Regions from separate parts of the Homo sapiens genome. Here regions 1, 2 and 4 are each linked to region 3. Evidence: fine-mapped expression QTL. A gene starts in region 3. Each other region holds a variant in brackets. All regions are shown on one strand. Distances are from middle to middle.

Region 1 (2,680 bases), 200 kb before region 3:
TTCAAGCAGTTCTCCTGCCTCAGCCTCCCAAGTAGGTGGGGTTACAGGTGCCCACCACCACGCCTGGATAATTTTTGTATTTTTTTAGTAGAGACAAGATTTCGCCATGTTGGTCAGGCTGGTCTCAAACTCCTGACCTCAAGTGATCTCACAAAGTGCTGGTATTACAGGTGTGAGCCCGGCCTTGAGTCTTTGTTTGGTTAGGACTGCCTAGGGATATAGATAGCTATTCTACTTAGTGTTGCTGGAAAGTTGCCCTTAAGGAAGTGACATTTAGGCTGATACTGAAAGATAAAAAGCTAGGTATGCAAAAGTTGAGAAAGGGAAAGAGGAACTTTAGGCAAAGTACAGCAAGTGCAAAGGCCTGAGGGGAAATGGGTTTGACATGGTTCTGTAAACAAAAATGTCACCTTCTGAGTGAGTTCTTCCCTGAATACTGTATTTAAAACTGGCCAGGTGTGGTAGCTGATGACTAATTCCAACACTTTGGGAAGCCGAAGTAGGCAGATCGTTTGAGTCTGAAAGTTCAAGACCAGCCTGGGCCCCATTGTGAGACCTCATTCTTTACAAAAAATAAATTCGCTGGGCATGGTGGCATGTGCCTGTAGTCCCAGGTACTTGGGAGGCTGAGGTGGGAGGATCACTTGAGCCAGGGAGATTGATCCCTGTTTTATTTTCTCCATAACACTTATTATTGTCCCACATAGTATATAATTTATTTTGGTTGTCTCTCCCACAATGGGATATAAGCTTCCTGAGGACAGGGATGTTTGTCTGATTTGTTCATTGTTATTGCCAGGTCCTCCCTTAGCCCATGGGACTTTTTCCAGTAAATTAGAAAAGAATGCCAGGCACGGTGGCTCACACCTGTAACCCCAGCACTTTGGGAGGCCAAGGCAGGCAGTTCACCTGAGGTCGGGAGTTTGAGACCAGCCTGACCAACATGGAGAAACCACCATCTCCACTAAAAATACAAAATTAGCCGGGCATGGTGGCACATGCCTGCATACCTGTAATCCCAGCTACTCAGGAAGCTGAGGCAGGAGAATTGCTTGAAACCGGGAGGCGGAAGTTGTGGTGAGCCAAGATGGTGCCATTGCACTCCAGCCTGGACAACAAGAGCAAAACTCCGTCTTGAGAAAAAAAAGAAAAGAAAAGAAAGTCTCCTTTCCAAAAGGTTGTGGCTCCACGCGGGACACGTAGTTCGGCTAGAAAAGCATGGACCTAGATTTTGGCCTCCTCTTGCCTCCTCAGCCAATTATACAAGACATAATTGAGCAACCATTACATGGCAGTCCTAGGATGCATTCATAGTACCTAGAACAGTGCCAACGTGTAGCAGACATGAATAAATATTTGTAGAATGATGGAATAGTTTAGAGTGAAGAAGAGTGATTATGAGATGAGAAAGTAAGCAGAAACCAGGTCAAGTAAGACTTCTAAGGAGTTTGATCTTTTTTTTTTTTTTCCTAAATAGCAGTCAACTGACAAGTCCCATGGAATACTTTCCATTAAATCATAATCTGTATTTTCAAAAAGCAGTGCAAGTAATTCTGCAGTAGAGTTAGTGG[C/T]CCAACTTTCTTTTTTTTTTTTTTTTTTTTTTTTTTGAGACGGAGTCTTGCTCTGTCGCCCAGGCTGGAGTGCAGTGGCGCAATCTTGGCTCACTGCAAGCTCCGCCTGCCGGGTTCATACCATTCTCCTGCCTCAGCCTCCCGAGTAGCTGGGACTACAGACACCCGCCACCATGTCTGGCTAATTTAATTTTTTTTTTTTTGTATTTTTAGTAGAGATGGGGTTTCACCTTGTTGAGGATGGTCTTGATCTCCTGACCTCGTGATCCGCCCACCTCGGCCTCCCAAAATGCTGGGATTACAGGCGTCAGCCGCTGTGCCTGGCTAGCAGGCCAACTTTCAATACTTTTGGACCTTCAGGGATCCATCTCCTGCCTATTTCACCCTTGTCTATTTGGCATTTTACTTTGCCTGCATATGTGGGTTTACCATGTTCTTTCAAACTCTGTGCAAGGGAGTTTGGGATGAACTATATGTAAAATATTCATTTTTTTCCTTGCAACCCCAAATCCAAACACAGTTGGATGGAGTTTTTAATCAGGGTTATTGCAGAAAACCCAGGACCTCAGGTCCTTGTGATTGAGTGGTGAATGAAGGGGAAAATGAGGCCACTTGAACATTATTCTGTTTAGGAACTTGCTGTATGAATTAGTAGAGACCATCACATTTTTCATCAATTCCTGCTCTCACCACACCCCGCTCTTGCCCCTGCTAAAAAACTACCAGCCTTCTCTCATGTTATGATTTAGGGGCCCCTGTTCACTGAGGGGCTAACAGCTGGAATTGTGGCACTGCATTAGCCTTTTTTGAGCTTTTATTTCTCTTTCATGCTGGATTTTTTTTTTTTTTTTTTTTTTTTTGGCACCCACACCCCATTTGAGAATTTACTTTCTCTCTGAGAAGTTTTTGTCAGTAGTTTTTTGTTTTATTGCCTTTTCTGTGATAGGTTAAGGATACAGCTTGGTAAAGAAGGAACCTGCAGGGGTTTATTGATGGAGTTCCTGTCCCACCATGCCCTAGGCCTAGTACATACATGCTTCTGATGAATCACTGCTGTTAGTATTTAGTATCTCCTGATCCTCATAGTCCATATTATGCAAAGCATAGAA
Region 2 (2,680 bases), 34 kb after region 3:
TTCCGTCTCAAAAAAAAAAAAAAATTCCACTTTAGAGTTGTCGAAGTCGCTTTCATAAGAAAATGGGCAGAAGACAGAAGGGGGATTATGCCCAAGTGCACTAACTGACCGGGACCTGTACCTCACGTGTGTTGCGGGAGGCAGAGTGGGGAGATTTCATCCTCCCCTTCCCCATGGTGGGTGGGCGCAGCCCAGGTCCTCCAGAAGGCCAGACAGGAAGGAAGGCTTTGTGAAAGATGGCATTCATTTACTCTGGGCTGCTGTGAATTCTCTTTGTTATTCCCCAGAGGCTGCTCAAGAGGGGGTTAATGGGGCGGGGGATGGCCCCTTCAGGTGACAATAATCAAGACAAATAAATAAGAGCTAACCTTGAGGGTTTGCTGCATCCCTGGCCTGACTCCAGCTCTTCTGTCTTCCTAACTCCATCCATGTTTGATCGGCTTTATCCCCATTTCACCAACGATGAAACCAGAGCTCAGATTTAAGCAGAATAACCACAGTCACACAGTCGGGAACTGATGGGGCCAGTGTTTAAACACAGGAATCTGGCTTCAGGGCTCTCTGCTGACTTTGCAAAAATCCCAGGACCCTTTATTTGGGACTTGGGTTCCAGATACAGCTTGCAGTGTGGCCATAGCCAAGTCACCTAACCTCTCAGAAGTTAGGTTTCTCAGCCATGCGCAGTGGTTCATGCCTGTAATCCCAGCACTTTGGGAGAACAAGGCAGGCAGATCACTTGAGGTCGGGAGTTCCAGACCAACCTGACCAACGTGGAGAAACCCCGTCTCTACTAAAAATACAAAATTAGCCAGCTGTAATCCCAGCTACTCGGGAGGCTGAGGCAGGAGAATTGCTTGAACCCATGAGGCAGAGGTTGCAGTGTGCTGAGATGGCACCACTGCACTGCAACCTGGGTGACAGAGCAAGACTGTCTCAAAAAAAACAAAAAAACAAAAAAGAGAAAAGAAAAAGAAATTAGGTTTCTCTCTTTATAAAATGGGGACAATTGTCCCAACCTCCCAGGGTTATTGTGAAAAACAAACTAGAGGGTTAATGAGGCCGGGCATGGTGGCTCGCCCCTGTAATCCCAATGCTTTGGGAGGCTGAGGCAGGAGTATTGCTTGAGCTCAGGAGTTCGAGGCTGCAGCAAGCTCTGACTGCGTCACTGC[A/C]CTCCAACCTGGGTGACAGAGCTAGACCCTATCTCAAAAACAAAAACAAACCAACAAGAGGGTTAATGAGCACAAAGCAGATAATCTGATGGAAGATTATTTAAAACTTCCCTGCTCTACACTAACTCAGCCCCCACCTCCTAAAGTGTCCATGCACCCCCCACCTAAGCCCAGAGACTGGGAGACAAAGGCTCTGCGGTTCCCTGGGAAAGGACTGAATGACCAATTGGCGCCACCTAGTGGTCTGCAGTGCATGGGGAGCGGGAGGGCCCGGCTGCTCCGGGATTGGGGGTTAAGTAAGATCATTAGCCCAGTGCGGATGGGAAAAATATACCAGGACGTCAGAAAGGATGGGGTCAGGCCTAGTTGGCACCCCACTGAAGACAGGGTGAAGGAGCGCACAGGGCTCAGGGTTCTATTCTAGTTCCAGTTCTGCCACTAAGAACCTCTCCAGGCCTCAGCTACCTCCTTTGCAGAATGGGAGTAAACATTCCTTACCTCTCAGGTCACTGTCCAAGCCTTTGTTCACTTATGAAACATTTAATGAAGCATCTGCTTTCAAAAGTCATCCTGCTGAGGGTTGTGAGGACACAAAGACATCTCAGCTGTGTCTCTCGGGATCAAGGGATCCGCTTCATCCTAGCAGGGAGACTGAGCTGTAAATTGCTCACTACCCTCAGATGCAGATCCCAGGGGACACTGAGGAGGGAGCATAAGGCACAGGAGGCAAGTGGAGGGACAGCAGGTAGTGGGACTCCCCCTCCAAGGGTGAATGTCTTTGAGAAGTGGCAGGAACTGTGACAAGTCAGGTCATAAGATTATCTTTCTGAGGGCCATCGCCCCGCCCCTCTTGCCTGGCCCCCTGCCTGCCTCCCAGCTGGGGACTGGATCGCCCTGGGCTGAGCCCCCTACTCTGGGCTCAGCCCCCTCAGGGCCAGGCCAGCCTCCCCACATACCACCTTCTCTTGCATTAAAGCCTTTAAAGTGGACCATAGGTCCATCAAGGATAGTTCACATCTCTGTGCATTTGCACTGTGTAGCTCCTCTCTCCAAACACCTTTTCTCCAACTCGTCCACCTGGCAAAGTCAACTCCAGCCTTCCTGTGGGAGAGTGGAGAGGAGAGTGCGAAATCCCCCAACTAGGAAGGAAACAGAAATGAAGGGGTGCCCCCTGCCCCCATCAGCAGTGGCACAGCCTGTAAGAATGTGAAATATACATTTGGTCTTCATCCCCATTTCCTGGCATACAACTCCTAAAATCCTTGGAATCTCCAAAGTGATAAGTGTCTTTTTGTATGCTGATGATTGCCTGATGGCCGGCAGCCCCTAGGCAGCTTCAGGATGGGGCTGGTCACCAGAAAGACCAGGGCAGGATTAGAGGGTTGGGACTTTCAGCCCCACCCTATGACCTCAGGGGAGGGGAGGGAGCTGAAAGTTAAATTGATGACCAATGGTTAATCAATCATGCTTACATAATGAATTCTCCATAAAAGGCCCCAAAGCAGAGGTTC
Region 3 (2,680 bases):
CCGGTGGACGAGATGATTTCGCCCCTCCTGGCAGGATCCCACCCAGGCCAGCTTTGGGGTCCTGGCTTGGTTGCCAGGACAAACCCAGAGAGAGGAGAAGGACGAACTGAGTGTCTTTAGTCATCTTCCAAACTAATTAAATTGTGGGCTCACCTCTGCCAAAGCCCAGGTTCTGGGGCTGTGAAGAAAGCCCGCCCACCCCCATGACAACAGCTCGCAGGAACCGAGGAGCCGGCCGGCCCAGGCCTCCAAGGTCACGGGGAGGGGGTCAGGGCGGAAAAGGCAGTGGAGTGAGGGTGCCGCCCTCGGGCCGTGCTAATCCCGCTCCGCTCCGTGCCGCCGAGGCGGGGTCCTGGCCACGCAGGAGGTGCGCCTCGGAGGAGGGCGGCGAGCGGCTACGGGGTGGGGAGCAAGGGGCGCGCGGGCGGCAGGCATGGAACGGACGCGGCGCATCTCGCCCACCGCGGGACGCCCGGACGGCGGCCGGCGCGCGCGGCCCGCCTCGAGCCCGAGAGGGCGGGGAGACAATGCCTGTCCGGCGGGGCAGTCCAGGCCGCACGCTCCCGCCCGCGGACACGGGCCGCTCCTACCCGGGCGAGAGGGCAGCGGCGGGAAGGCGCCGGGAGCGATGGCCACCCCGGCCCCGCGAGGCGCGGCAGGCCCCGCTCGCCCTCTCCCGCGCCCGCCTGGCGTGCGCTTCACCCGGCAAGTCCCGGGGCCACAGACCCACCTCCTCCTCCAGGGCGCCGCCGGAGCCCGCGCCGGAGCCGGTGCCGGTGCTGCCGCCGTGCTCGCCGTCCGGCTTCAGGTTGCTCATGGTGCGGGGGAGGGGGCGGCGGGAAGGAACGCGAGGGCGAGCGCGGCGCCGGCCCCGCGGGAAGTGGGAAGGGGCGCGGGGAGCGGTGCGCTCGCGGGTGCGGAGCGGGTGGCGGGGGACCCACGGGGCAGTGAGAGGGGCAGCCTCCGCGTCGGGCCAGGGTCACATCAAGTTTGGCGGGTGCGGAAGGTGGGGAGGGGGTGCGGCGGGGGAGGCAGTGGGAGCCGGAGGGGCCGCCGCCTCCGCCTTTTCACTGCGACCGGCGAGTGCGCCGCGGCGGCGGCGGCGGCGGCAGCGGCGGCGGGGGGCGGGCGCCGGGGGAGGGGGCGGGCGCCGGCGGCGGGGGGCGGGGCCGGAACCGGCCTCAGCTGGGGCCCGGCCAGCCCCCTCCCCCGCCCGCCGCGCGGTCTCCGGGGGAACGCGCAGCCAATCCCCACCGCCCACCGTGGGCTCGCCCCGGCCCCGGCCGCGGGGCGCCGGCCTCCGGCCGGGCCTTTCCCCTCTCTCTCGCCTGGGTCAGCGCTCTCCCTCTCTCCTCTTCCCCCGCGCCCTTCTCCACGGCGAGTTTTTAAACTTTGATGAACTCGCCCGGCGAACTTTCTTAAAGGGGCCGCGCGCTGCGCGCCCCAGCCCGCGGGAGGTGGAGCCCCGTGCCCCGCACCCAGCGCCCCGGTCCCTGGGCGGCCCTGCCCGGGCGGCCTCGCGCTTAGGGCACCCGCAGCGAGGTTTCCGGGCCGTCGACTCCCCTTGTATCTTGATCTAGGGTTTTGGGGTTCCCGACGCACTCATTCTGCCCCTAAATCCAGTCGCGCAGACCTCAGCTCCGGGGGACCGAGTTCTGGGGGTGATGGCCGGGGGGAGGGGGTTGGGAGACACCTGAGCTTTGGCCCGGGCTGGGCGCTGTTTTGCTGAGTGACCTTGAGGAAATCACTTCCCCTCTCTGGCCTCAGGCTCCCAGCCCAGAGGGTGGGACTTAGGATCTCAAACTCCCTTCCCACTCCCAGTCACTATCTGAATAGGACTTAGGTGGGGATTCGAGTGTTGGGACCCCAATGGTCATTAGCGAGGGCTGCCTCGAATGACCAAGAAGGTTCTGTTGCCCACCTTGCCCTCAACACGCCTGGCTTTCGGGTCTTCTCGCTCCTCCCCCGACCTCAGTGCCCCTCACACCTTTCCCTGCCTCCTATTCTGAGCCCGAAGGCTGGGGACGGATGTAATAGCCTAGAGGCTGGGGGAGGTGGGGGAGGTCGTCGTGACTCCCCCCGCACCCCCGCGCAGGTCAGTAGGGCGCGGCCTCTGGGTCGGTTTTCTCTTCTATTTGAAAACCCAGCCGATGGGGGCCCGCCCTGCTGCCACAGTAGAAACCCGCACCCACCTCGGGGAGCGCTGGAAGCGCTGCAGCCTGAATCCGGCAGAGCCGCGGGAGAACTGGGTCCCTCCTCAGTGCCCCTTCTCCTGGACGGGGCGGAGGTTGCGGTGACCCGAGATCTTGCCATTGCACTCCAGCCAGGGCAACAAGAGCGAAACTCCGTCTCAAAAAAAGAAAAGAAAAAAGAAAAGCTGGATTTGCAGTCACGGACTGGTTAGGATCCCAGACCGTGGACAAGTGCCTGAGCCCCCAGAACCTCTGTGTGTCGACCTCCTGAATTAGGTAGGACTAGCACCACAGGATCACTGTGCTGTGGCTTAGTCTTCCCAGTAAATTATAATCTCCATCCTGACCTGCCATCTCACAGATAAATTGAGGCCTAGAGATGGGCAATGTCTTTCCAATGATATACTCATTCCTTTAGTAAATAATTATTGAGCACCTACTGTGGGCTGGGGACCATTTTCTGCTGGTGGCAAGGCCAAGAGCACCCT
Region 4 (2,680 bases), 30 kb after region 3:
TCAGTCTCCTGGGTAGCTGGGACTACAGGTGCATGCCACCATGCCCAGCTAATTTTTTTGTATTTTTAGTAGAGATGGGATTTCACCATGTTGGCCAGGGATGGTCTTGATCTCTTGACCTCGTGATCCACCTGCCTCGGCCTCCCAAAGTGCTAGGATTACAAGCATGAGCCACCGCGACTGGCCAACTCTGAGCTTTTTTAGAGTTGGCAGCAAGGATGTTTCTGAAGGTCAAAGATAATCCCGTGTCAAAAACAGCTCTGGGGCAGGAGGAGTCATGTTCTGTGGGAATGAGCCCTCAGACCCAGCCACTTCCTCATCAAATGTCCTAGTAGCTGGGTCTCCTGGAGCCCCTAGCTCTGCATTCCCACAGGATGGTAGGAGCTGCTGATGGAGGCAGGCAAGTGGAAGTCCAGCCCTGTAGGAGCTCCAGTTCACAGAGGGGAACTGAACTGGCCTTTTTGGAGGAAAAGAAGACTTGAACCAAACTTGGAGGACCTGGTCAACTTGGATGAAGGAGAGTGAGGTGGGACGAGTAGGCTTTCTGTTCAGTGCAGAAAAGCTGGGACTGCTGGTTAAGCCATCAGCATTTCCCAAGCCCCACGGGTGTGTCCCACTGGGTGTTCACACCACAGACCCTTCAAGGGAGGATTGTCATTGCTGTGTGTCAGATGAGGAAACTCAGCCAGGGTCCAAGACTGCAGGAGGGATGTGCTGAATGCATGTGATGAGGAAATGGGGACCATTCTTTTATTTATTTATTTATTTATTTATTTATTTATTTATTTAGAGACAAGGCTTGCTCTGTAACCCAGGTTGGAGTGCAGTGGCACAATCTCGGCTCACTGAAGCCTTGACTCCCAGGCTCAAGCAATCCTCCCACCTCAGCCTCCCAAGTAGCTGGGACCACAGGTGTGTGCTACTGCACTGGGCTAATTTTTTTCTTTTCTTTCTTTCTTTCTTTTTTTTTTTTTTCGAGATGGAGTCTCGCTGTCACCCAGACTGGAGTGCAGTGGTGTAATCTTGGCTCACTGCAACCTCTACCTCCTGGGTTCAAGTGATTCTCCTGCCTCAGCCTCCCAAGTAGCTGGGACTACAGGCTCGCATCACCACGCCCAGCTAATTTTTGCATTTTCAGTAGAGACAGGGTTTCACCATGTTGGCCAGGCTGGTCTTGAACCCCTGACCTCAAGTGATCCATCTGCCTTGACCTCCCAAAGTGCTGGGATTACAGGTGTGAGCCACTGTGCCCAGTCCTTTCTTTTTTTTTCTTTTCTTTTTTTTTTTTTTTTTGAGACAGTCTTGCCCTGTCGCCCAGGCTGGAGTGCAGTGGCGCGATCTCGGCTCACTGCAACCTCCGCCTCTCAGGTTCAAGCTATTCTCTGCCTCAGCCTCCGGAGTAGCTGGGATTACAAGCACCCACCACCACGCCCGGTAATTTTTGTATTTTTTTAGTAGAGATGGGGTTTCACCATCTTGGCCAGGCTGGTCTTGAACTCCTGACCTTGTGATCCACCTGC[C/G]TTGGTCTCCCAAAGCGTTGGGATTACAGGCGTGAGCCACCATGCCTGGCCTTTTCTTTTCTTTTTTTGAGACAGGATCTTGCTCTGTCCTTCAGGCTGGAGTGCAGTGGCACTATCAGCTCACAGCAGCCTTGACCTCCTGGGCTCAAACAATCCTCCTGCCTCAGCCTCCTGAGTAGCTGGGACTACAGGTATGCATCACCACACTCAGCTAATGTTTTTTTGATTTTTTGTAGAGACAAGGTCTCACCATGTTGTCCGGGCTGGACTTGAACTCCCAAAAGTGTTGGGATTACAGGCATAAGCTGCTGCGCCCAGCTGAGAGAGACCATTCTGAGAGAGGCCATGGGAGCCTCAGCAGGCTGTGAGACAACCTTAGCCAGGGCAGGAGCCTGGAAACAGGTGGGCAGATGAGGCTGGGCTGATGGGAGATGCATGAGGTCTGAGCTGGAAGGGATCTCAAAGATCTCTCCAACTCATTTTACAGGAGGAAATTGAGGCCCAAAGAGGGAAAGGGGCTTGCCCAATGACACACAAGAGGTTAACGGTAGAGCCAGGCTAGAAAGACCCAGAGAAGATCAAGTACACCCCAATTAAACACAAAGTTCACCCTCACATACTCCCACCTCCAGGCACCACCGCCCCCGCCCCATCCAACAAGCACACTAACACTGGGGCAGTGACAGTGGCTGCATTTCCTCCTATAATAGACCCTCTTTTCCCAGGATGAAGCCCCCACCTTAGGTTATTAGGGGCTCCAGTCAGACCCAGCTCAGCTTCTATTTCACTGTGGGGACCCTGGGGCCTTCCTTCCCATTCCCTGAGCCACAGTTTGCTCATCTGTGATGTGAGGCCACTGGACCAACTGACCACTGTGGTTTTTTCAGTTCTCAGTGAGCAGAGGAAGGCGAGGCTAGGGCTTCTTCCTCCCTCTGGTCCCCCAGCCCCCAGTCCAGCCTGACAGGGGTGGGGCCGGCCTGCTGGGGCTCACATGCCTGAGGAGTAAGCTCCTGGTCCCGAGGAGGCAACATGATCTGTAAAAGATCCCTGACCATCTTTTTGAACCCTGGAGAGGGCGTCTCAGTCATATGAGGACCACAGGGGGATTAGCGATGCTTAGAAGGGAGGCCAGGGAGGCAGCCACCTGGGGGAAAGACTAG

Alleles and levels. Positions count from the first base shown, and alleles are read on the strand shown. Sizes are in standard deviations (SD) of each study's normalised expression. Not every link is listed here.
For the expression in fibroblasts of the gene that starts at base 1,087 in region 3, allele T in region 1 goes with a lower level than allele C (moderate effect, 0.66 SD a copy in GTEx).
As copies of G replace C in region 4, the expression in prefrontal cortex of the gene that starts at base 1,087 in region 3 goes down (large effect, 0.85 SD a copy in GTEx).

Evidence for each region. PIP is the estimated chance that this variant, and not a neighbour inherited with it, causes the effect. A credible set is the group of variants that fine-mapping cannot tell apart.
Region 1: its variant is the best candidate, but not a certain one, in a credible set for the expression of RBPMS2 in fibroblasts (GTEx, PIP 0.78).
Region 2: its variant is the best candidate, but not a certain one, in a credible set for the expression of RBPMS2 in whole blood (TOPMed, PIP 0.53).
Region 4: its variant is the best candidate, but not a certain one, in a credible set for the expression of RBPMS2 in prefrontal cortex (GTEx, PIP 0.90).

What each region holds. Positions count from the first base shown.
Region 1 is chr15:64,571,766-64,574,445 of GRCh38, forward strand. All of the region lies in intron 2 of ZNF609 (zinc finger protein 609), which reads left to right. All of the region lies in intron 4 of LOC101930091 (a long non-coding RNA gene), which reads right to left. Among named protein-coding and RNA genes, the nearest start is that of ZNF609, 110 kb to the left of the region's middle. RefSeq lists enhancers at 401-470, 501-600. The variant C/T (reference allele first, on the strand shown) is at 1,572.
Region 2 is chr15:64,808,692-64,811,371 of GRCh38, forward strand. No RefSeq gene overlaps it. Among named protein-coding and RNA genes, the nearest start is that of PIF1, 16 kb to the right of the region's middle. RefSeq lists enhancers at 37-544, 2,067-2,574, 2,575-2,680. The variant A/C (reference allele first, on the strand shown) is at 1,170.
Region 3 is chr15:64,774,503-64,777,182 of GRCh38, forward strand. RBPMS2 (RNA binding protein, mRNA processing factor 2) reads right to left here and starts at 1,087. Exons shown (of 8, transcript NM_194272.3): 1 at 731-1,087. The coding sequence starts at 817. RefSeq lists enhancers at 948-1,794, 1,795-2,640 and a silencer at 1,263-1,512.
Region 4 is chr15:64,804,051-64,806,730 of GRCh38, forward strand. No RefSeq gene overlaps it. Among named protein-coding and RNA genes, the nearest start is that of PIF1, 20 kb to the right of the region's middle. RefSeq lists enhancers at 1,631-2,139, 2,647-2,680. The variant C/G (reference allele first, on the strand shown) is at 1,521.